2 linked regions of the Homo sapiens genome follow. The protein of the gene in region 1 purifies or fractionates together with the protein of each later gene. This does not show direct contact. Each region holds a gene or a part of one and is shown on either strand. Other genes may lie near its edges. The genes, in order: CALCRL and CRCP.

Region 1 (3,827 bases):
ACCAAATTTTTTTGTTTATACAAATTACAGACTGCACTAAATTTGTTTTACCTGACCATAATTGGACACGGATTGTCTATTGCATCACTGCTTATCTCGCTTGGCATATTCTTTTATTTCAAGTAAGTAAATTTAAAATATTTTAAGAAAATTACTAGATGTCTTGGGTGAATGCCCCATCATGTGCATATTTACATCATGTCTGACAAAATATACCAATATAGATGATTTATAATGTTTAAAATAAGTTGAAATAAGTTGATCTTAGCTTTGTAAAATATGTAGAGGAGACTGATGAAATATCTTAACCTGAATTTTACAAAATTAGTAGGCATATAAAAGTGAAGACATATAATAAGAAGGGAGTCCAAACTAATATATAAACCTAACTGTATTTGCTTTGGGAACTGTTAAATAGTATAGGCCTTCTTAATTGTGTGTTTAGCTTTTGGACAATTTTAATAACAGAATAAGTGTCCATTTTAGAAACCGGAATTTTGTGCAAATAATAGCAAAGGCATTTAACATATATCATCAAAAATATAATCTAAATACACTTTGTTTAGGGTTTTTCCTCGTTTGGCGGGTCATCATTAAAAAGGTTTAATTGTACTTTCAATTTTACTTGTAATTCACTCCATTTTGAGGAGGAAGAGTCAGCTCCAATTTTTTGAACAAAGCAATCAACAACCAATTTTAAATTTATAGAAAGTTAAATTCTAAGTCATGCATGCATTATTTTATCCCTTCACATGATTTTCATAACTTTGATCATCAGCATATATATAATCATAGAATTCAGCGTGACAAGAGTAAGTAGCTATGTTTCATTGTATCTTCATCGCATTGTAGTCATCTTCTGCTCCTTTTGCTCCTGTGGCTGCCACCGCCACTGCTGCTCCTTCTCTTTCTTCTTTCTTCTTCTCCTTCTCCTTCTTCTTGTTCTTCTTTTTCCTCCTCCTCCTCCTTCTCTTTCTTGTTTCTTCTTCTCCTTCTCCTTCTTCTTGTTCTTCTTTTTCCTCCTCCTCCTCCTCTTCTCTTATTCCTCTTCCTACCCCTCCTTCTTCCTCCAACTTCCTTCTTCTACTAATTTTAAACAAAGAAGATATATATACCTATAATTTTAATACCCTATTAAGCAATTTCTAACATTTTTCTAGTTTTATTTCATATTGTTTCTACAGTTTTAATTATAGTATTTAAAATATTTTAACTATTTTTATAACAGCATTTTATCATTAGCACTTTATATGTTACTGAACAGTTTTTAAACAATCATTTGAGCAGCTAAATAATTTTTCATTTAGTAGGTGTACAAAAGTTGTTATTATCAATTCTCTATTTTCGACCATTAACATTGCTTTCATTTTTTCAATTAAAAAACACTGCAATGGACATTTTTGACTATAACTTTTCCCATAGTTTGTACTATTTTCTCAGGCTACATTCCCAGAGTCTTGGGATTTCTTGGTCAAAGGGTCTATATCTTTTTATGGCTCTTGAAACACATCATCTCAAAAATATTTCAAAATGAACATGTTCAAAACAAATTCATATTATCTACCTCCTCCTAACCCAAGCTGGTTTTCTTCCAGAGTGACCCATCTTTACAAATGACACTACCAGAAATCCAATCACATTGGCCAGAAATTTAAGAGTAATCTGTGATACATTTCTCTCATTTTTCTTCTCTGTCACTCTTTCCTTATAACCTGTGAACTTAACCTTTTGAAACCCTTCTAATCTATTCCATTTCCTGATCACTACTGCCATCACCAGCAGTCTTGTTCTATCTAGCCTCAGTAAATTCACTTTCTCTCTTCATTTAATTCTAACCAAGGCAGCCAGAATAGTAGTTTCAAATATTTAGATCAAATATTGACCTGATTTTGCCATTCTTTGCTTTAAAATTTTTAGATTTTCCATTGTAATTAATATAAAATCAAAATCATTAACTTGCCCTGCCTGTTCTCTTTGCCTCCTCCCTAGTCTAATTAAATGTATTTATCTTTTAGATTTAAATTTTAGCATCACTTCCTCAGTGAAATCTTCCCGAATTACTTACTGTAATATTTCCAGAATTGCAATTAACGATAGTAGACATAGGGTAAAATTTTAATTAACATTTGGAAGACCACTATCTCTGCAAATTAAAAACTAATACAGCTGAAAGTCTTCAGATTAAATGGTCTCTTTTTATTTTGCATGTCATAAGTTGAAATATCCGAGCACATTAAATTTTTGAAGAAGATAAAGTTGCAAAGTATAATAATTACATTTGCCTGTCAAAACCAGTGGCTACAGGGAAGGACAATGGTTTCTAGAATTCTAAGTCATACAGTCCCAAACAAGTTAGAATTTAGTAAAGATAAGTAAAGTCCTGCACCAATTTCCTAAAGTCAAATGCAAAATTATTTATGTTCCTTCATGTGAAAGAGTCTAAGATTTAATGGAAAATGCTTGCTGTGAACTAATTAGATAAGAGTAGGGCTGCCAAGTGAAAACAATGCTGCAAGCCAAATGATACCAACAAATGTAGAGTATTCAATTTTAAATCTCAAATCAGACCACTTATTCTCCTAGTTCACTATATGAGAGCAAAAGCAAGATATCATAAAAATTAGCTTATCAAGTGAAGAAATTGAAGAAAATATCAACTGATCCGGGCATCAAGGTACCACACCAAGAGTGTTAAGCCAGAAAAAGACAAAATATATAAGGCACAATGTATGATTTCAAGAATCCAAATTACTATAATTGAGAATACAGTTGGTATAATAAACAGAGAAAAAAATAGCTCAATTAAAAAAATTTAAAAAAACGAATATAACTAAACAAAATGTAATGAACCTTGCATTTGCCTTCCTGTCACTCAGGAAAGTTGAAGTAGATGGCTTTCCTATACTGGGTTCATAGCTAGACCTGAGGATCTTTAATGCTCTTTCCACACCCAAGAATCTATGAATGAAACAGTACTTGAATAAAGAGGATTAGAATGAAAGAGTTATCTTTTTAATCAAAATATATAATCTCCATATCAGGGAAGTTGGTATCTGTTAAAGTATTTGGCAAGCTTAAAGCAGTCTACACACATAAACTGTATTTCTTATTGATAAAGAATTGGAATAAAATCATGTTCAATATTTTTATATCTGTATTTATGTATGTTTTATTCAAGAACAAATACTGTTCAACTGATATTCACAAGTAATTTTAAATTTTAATTGAAGGGTTAAAATTTAAAACCAGAGAATGTTTATTTCATCTATAGAGAAGTGCTTTTTAAAAATGATATTGTGTATATATTTACAAAATTATTAACTTTAAAGATGTAACCTGTAGGCACATTCCTCATTCCAAAAGAGGCCAGAAATTTGGTTCTCCCAAATACTGTCCTCGTGTTTTACATATAAATAGGCCAATTTTTTAGAAAAATAATATTTTTTAAAATAAAGATTACTATGTGCAATAAATACATGCATTTGTTATTTGCTAAAATGCCCATGCTTTTAAACAAGATGTATAACATGCTACATTGGCAACACTTTGTTAAAGCAAATGAATGTCTTGCCAATATAAGAAATTTGACCTCTACATAAAAGAAAAAATATGTTTTTCAAATAATTACCTTACTTCCACTTGAAGTTTTCACTGAAAGTACAATTACCTGTTTATTCTATATAGTGAACTGAAAGGAAAAAAAAGAATTTTTCAGTGGCAAGTTAGTATAAGAGGTATGCAGTTGAATTCAGGCATAACTCAATTTTTTTTTTTTTTTTTTTTGAGACGGAGTCTCGCTCTGTCGCCCAGGCCGGACTGCGGACTGC
Region 2 (3,827 bases), on another chromosome or scaffold:
CATGGCACATGTATACATATGTAACAAACTTGCACGTTGTGCACATGTACCCTAGAACTTAAAGTATAATTTTGAAAAAAAAGATAAATAAATAAAAAAAGAAGGAAGAAAGGTCTTCTGCATTTACCCATTCAAACCAGGGTTAGTACTTGATTAATATAATATTTCAATTCTGTCTTGTTTTTTCCCCATTTCTACATTATCACATTTCCTTCCTTTCAAAACAATTTAACTTATTTTACTAATATTTTGAGATCAGCTCGTGACATTTAATGTTCTCAATAATTAGAGAAGAATTACTTTGGTTAGCCTAGAATATACTCACTTGTGTTTCTAAATTAGTAAGCTCATTTTCATCTAGATAATGGGAGGCTAGAGAGGTCCTGCTTTAAGAGTAGAACTATTGGTTCTACCAATTTTGGCTTGGAGGCACTGCGTCTGTAAGAACCAAGTGGCCCTGATACTCAGCTCTTGGTGTGAAGTGCTTTGTAAGGTTTATCTGAATTGAATCATTAGGGAAGAAGCAGTGTTAATAACATAGAAATGGTTGGCCCTGTTCACATTAATGGTTAATAAATAAGGTTGCATCATTTATGGCTTCTGGAGTCCAAAAAGGACATCTACACATATTGTTTCCATGAAGACACCACCCTTCACCCTTTCCCCAGCCTTGTGAGTTTAGCAGATGATCCTTATTCAGTGGTAAGGATAATGAAACTCAGAGAGGTCAAATACCTTTTCCAAGGTCATGGTGCTATAAGGGGCAGAAACTGGACTACAGCCCAGGTTCCCCGATTCCAAGCTTGTTATGCTGTGGTCAGATGCTAGCAGTTGGGAGTTAGCAGATATAAATAAACTGTATTTTGGCCCATTTGATTGAGATCTCTACCTATGACCTAAATTTGCCTTCTTTTCCATGAAGCATTTCCATTTCCCCTCACCCGTCTTTTTTGAGAATGTAAATTAATCTCTGCTAATTTTGCAGAATAAGCAGGCAGAGTAATACAGTATCACTAGGATAAATGAACTTTCTTCATTTATAAAAAAAAAAAAAAAAAGATTTGTTCCTTACTCTAGTCCCTATGTCTAACTTTCAGTTGTTTCATCTCCAATACTATAATCCTTCTTTAAATCCAAACCCAGCCGAATATCAATACACGGTTGCTACGAATGTAGCAACTATCATTTCACCATGTGTCACGCTCTTCCTACTTAAGAGATTTACTTACTTGGTCAACTTGTGGCTTTTCAATGCTGTGAGAAATTCTCTGACAATTTCAGGACTCTGGTGCCTGCATGGTGTTTTTGATATGTATTTTAACGTCTGGCAAAAAAAAAAAAAAAGAAAAAAGCCAAGCATAAGACAAAGAACCCTGAATGAGAAAAAACAAAGGCAATGACTGTAATTAAAATTCTAAAATTTTGTTTGTAAAAATCCTGTAGAGGCTGGGCACGGTGGCTCACACCTGTAATCCCAGCACTTTGGGAGGCCGAGGTGGCCAAATCACCTGAGGTCAGGAGTTCGAGACCAGCCTGGCCACCATGGTGAAACCCCATCTCTACCAAAAATACAAAAAATTAGCTGGGTGTGGAGGTGCACGCCTGTAATCCCAGCTACTAGGGAGGCTGAGGCAGGAGAAACACTTGAACCTGGGAGGCAGAGGTTGCAGTGAGCCGAGATCACACCATGGCACTCCAGCCTGGGTGACAGAGTGAGACTCTGTCTCAAAAAAAAAAAAAAAAAAGAAAACAAAAAAGAAAAAAAATCCTGTATAAAACAAAAAGGCATTCAGGAGAACCAATCTTCGTGTAATTGGAATTTCTGAAAGAGAAAACCAGTAGCTAGAAGAGGAAGAATAACTAATGAAATTTTAGGAGAAAACTTTTCTGATCTCAAAAAAAAAAAACCCTCAATCTGACAATTGTGTTATATTTTGAACAATTTTTTTAAAGAGGGGGAACCCAAAGAATAAAATAAATTGCCATGAGTCTACATGGATATATACGACTGAATAGATAAACGGGTAAGAAGAGACAACTTTTTCTTTTTTTTTTTTTTTTTGAGACGGAGTCTCACTGTCACCCAGGCTGGAGTGCAGCGGCACGATCTCGGCTCACTGCAGGCTGGAGTGCAGCGGCACGATCTCGGCTCACTGCAAGCTCCGCCTCCTGGGTTCACACCATTCTCCTGCTTCAGCCTCCCAAGTAGCTGGGACTACAGGCGCCTGCCACCACGCCCGGCTAATTTCTTTTTGTATTTTTAGTAGAGACGAGGTTTCACCGTGTTAGCCAGGATGGTCTCGATCTCCTGACCTCGTGATCCACCCGCCTCGGCCTCCGAAAGTGCTGGGATTATAGGCATGAGACACCGCACCCGGCCAAGAATGAGAAAAATTTTTAAATCACTCTTAGGCAATTGTACCATAGTCATAACTACTGCAGGAAAGACCCACCAATAAATGCTAAAATTGATGGTTAAAAGCTTAAGCAAAGGGTAGGCTGTTTTCCTAGCCGCAAAGCATCTCCCACAAAATATTTTTTAATTACTGTGGTGGTTTTAACATACAACCACAAATTCTTCGATATCCCTCCCTTCAAGAGGTGAAGCTTAATCCCCCCGCCCCGCTTCCCCTTGAATATGGGCTAAACTTGGTAAGTCCTTTCATCTTATTTATTTATTTATTTATTTATTTGAGACAGAGTCTTGCTCTGTCGCCCAGGCTGGAGTGCAGTGGCGCAATCTCGGCTCACTGCAAGCTCCACCTCCCAGGTTCACGCCATTCTCCTGCCTCAGCCTCTCTGAGTAGCTGGGACTACAGGCGCCCGCCACTACGCCCGGCTAATTTTTTGTATTTTTTCTTTTTAGTAGAGATGGGGTTTCACCGTGGTCTCGATCTCCTGACCTTGTGATCCGCCTGCCTCGGCCTCCCAAAGTGCTGGGATTACAAGTGTGAGCCACCACGCCCAGCCAAATCCTTTCTAACATAATGTGGAAATGAAGAAACAGTAGATTTACAGTGGAGAAACCAGGCAGATACCATCTTAACGAAATGACCAAAGTTAACAACATCACCCATAAGAAACATCAATATCATGTACCCCCAGAAATCAGGACACGAGAAGGGGAGATTACCTCTGTGGTACTCTTCCTCAAAAGCCATAGGTTTTGTGTAATCATAATAAAACATCAGGCAATCACAAATCAACAGACATTCTACAAAATACTTGACGAGACTTTGGAAGTGTCAAGGTCATGGAAGACAAAGGAAGAGTAAGGATATAGATTGAATGACATTATGGGGACATGTTAACTAAATACAAAATGGTATCCTGAACTGAATCCTGGAACCCAGAAGACAGCAATGGGAAAACAGGGCATTCAAATAAAATTTAAGTTTAGCTTAATAGTATGTACCAATGTTAATTTCTTGGTTTTGATCACTGTACCATGGTTATGTAAGATATTAACATCAGAGAAAACTATGGGAAGGGTACATGAGAACTCCCAGCACTGTCTCTACAACTTTTATGTAAGAGAAAAATGGCTGGGCACGGTGGCTCACGCCTGTAATCCCAGCACTTTGGGAGCCAGAGGTGGGCGGATCACATGAGGTCGGGAGTTTGATACCCGCCTGACCAACATGGAGAAACCCTGTCTCTACTAAAAATACAAAATTAGCCGGGCAAGGTGGTGCATGCCTGTAATCCCAGCTACTCGGGAGGCTGAGGCAGGAGAATCGCTTGAACCCGGGAGCCAGAGGTGAGCCGAGGTTGCGCCATGGCACTCCAGCCTAGGCAACAGGAGCGAGAATCCGTCTCAAAAAAAA

Evidence for each region.
Region 2: the proteins of CALCRL (region 1) and CRCP purify together in Homo sapiens (affinity purification with western blotting, with the first as the bait; one study listed by BioGRID). This does not show direct contact.

The regions. Positions count from the first base shown.
Region 1 is NC_000002.12:187,375,235-187,379,061, reverse strand, and holds part of CALCRL (calcitonin gene-related peptide type 1 receptor precursor), read left to right. Parts: intron 1-30; coding exon 31-122; intron 123-3,827. UniProt on the Homo sapiens protein: G protein-coupled receptor which specificity is determined by its interaction with receptor-activity-modifying proteins (RAMPs). Together with RAMP1, form the receptor complex for calcitonin-gene-related peptides CALCA/CGRP1 and CALCB/CGRP2.
Region 2 is NC_000007.14:66,131,777-66,135,603, reverse strand, and holds part of CRCP (DNA-directed RNA polymerase III subunit RPC9), read right to left. Parts: intron 1,325-3,827; coding exon 1,230-1,324; intron 1-1,229. UniProt on the Homo sapiens protein: DNA-dependent RNA polymerase catalyzes the transcription of DNA into RNA using the four ribonucleoside triphosphates as substrates.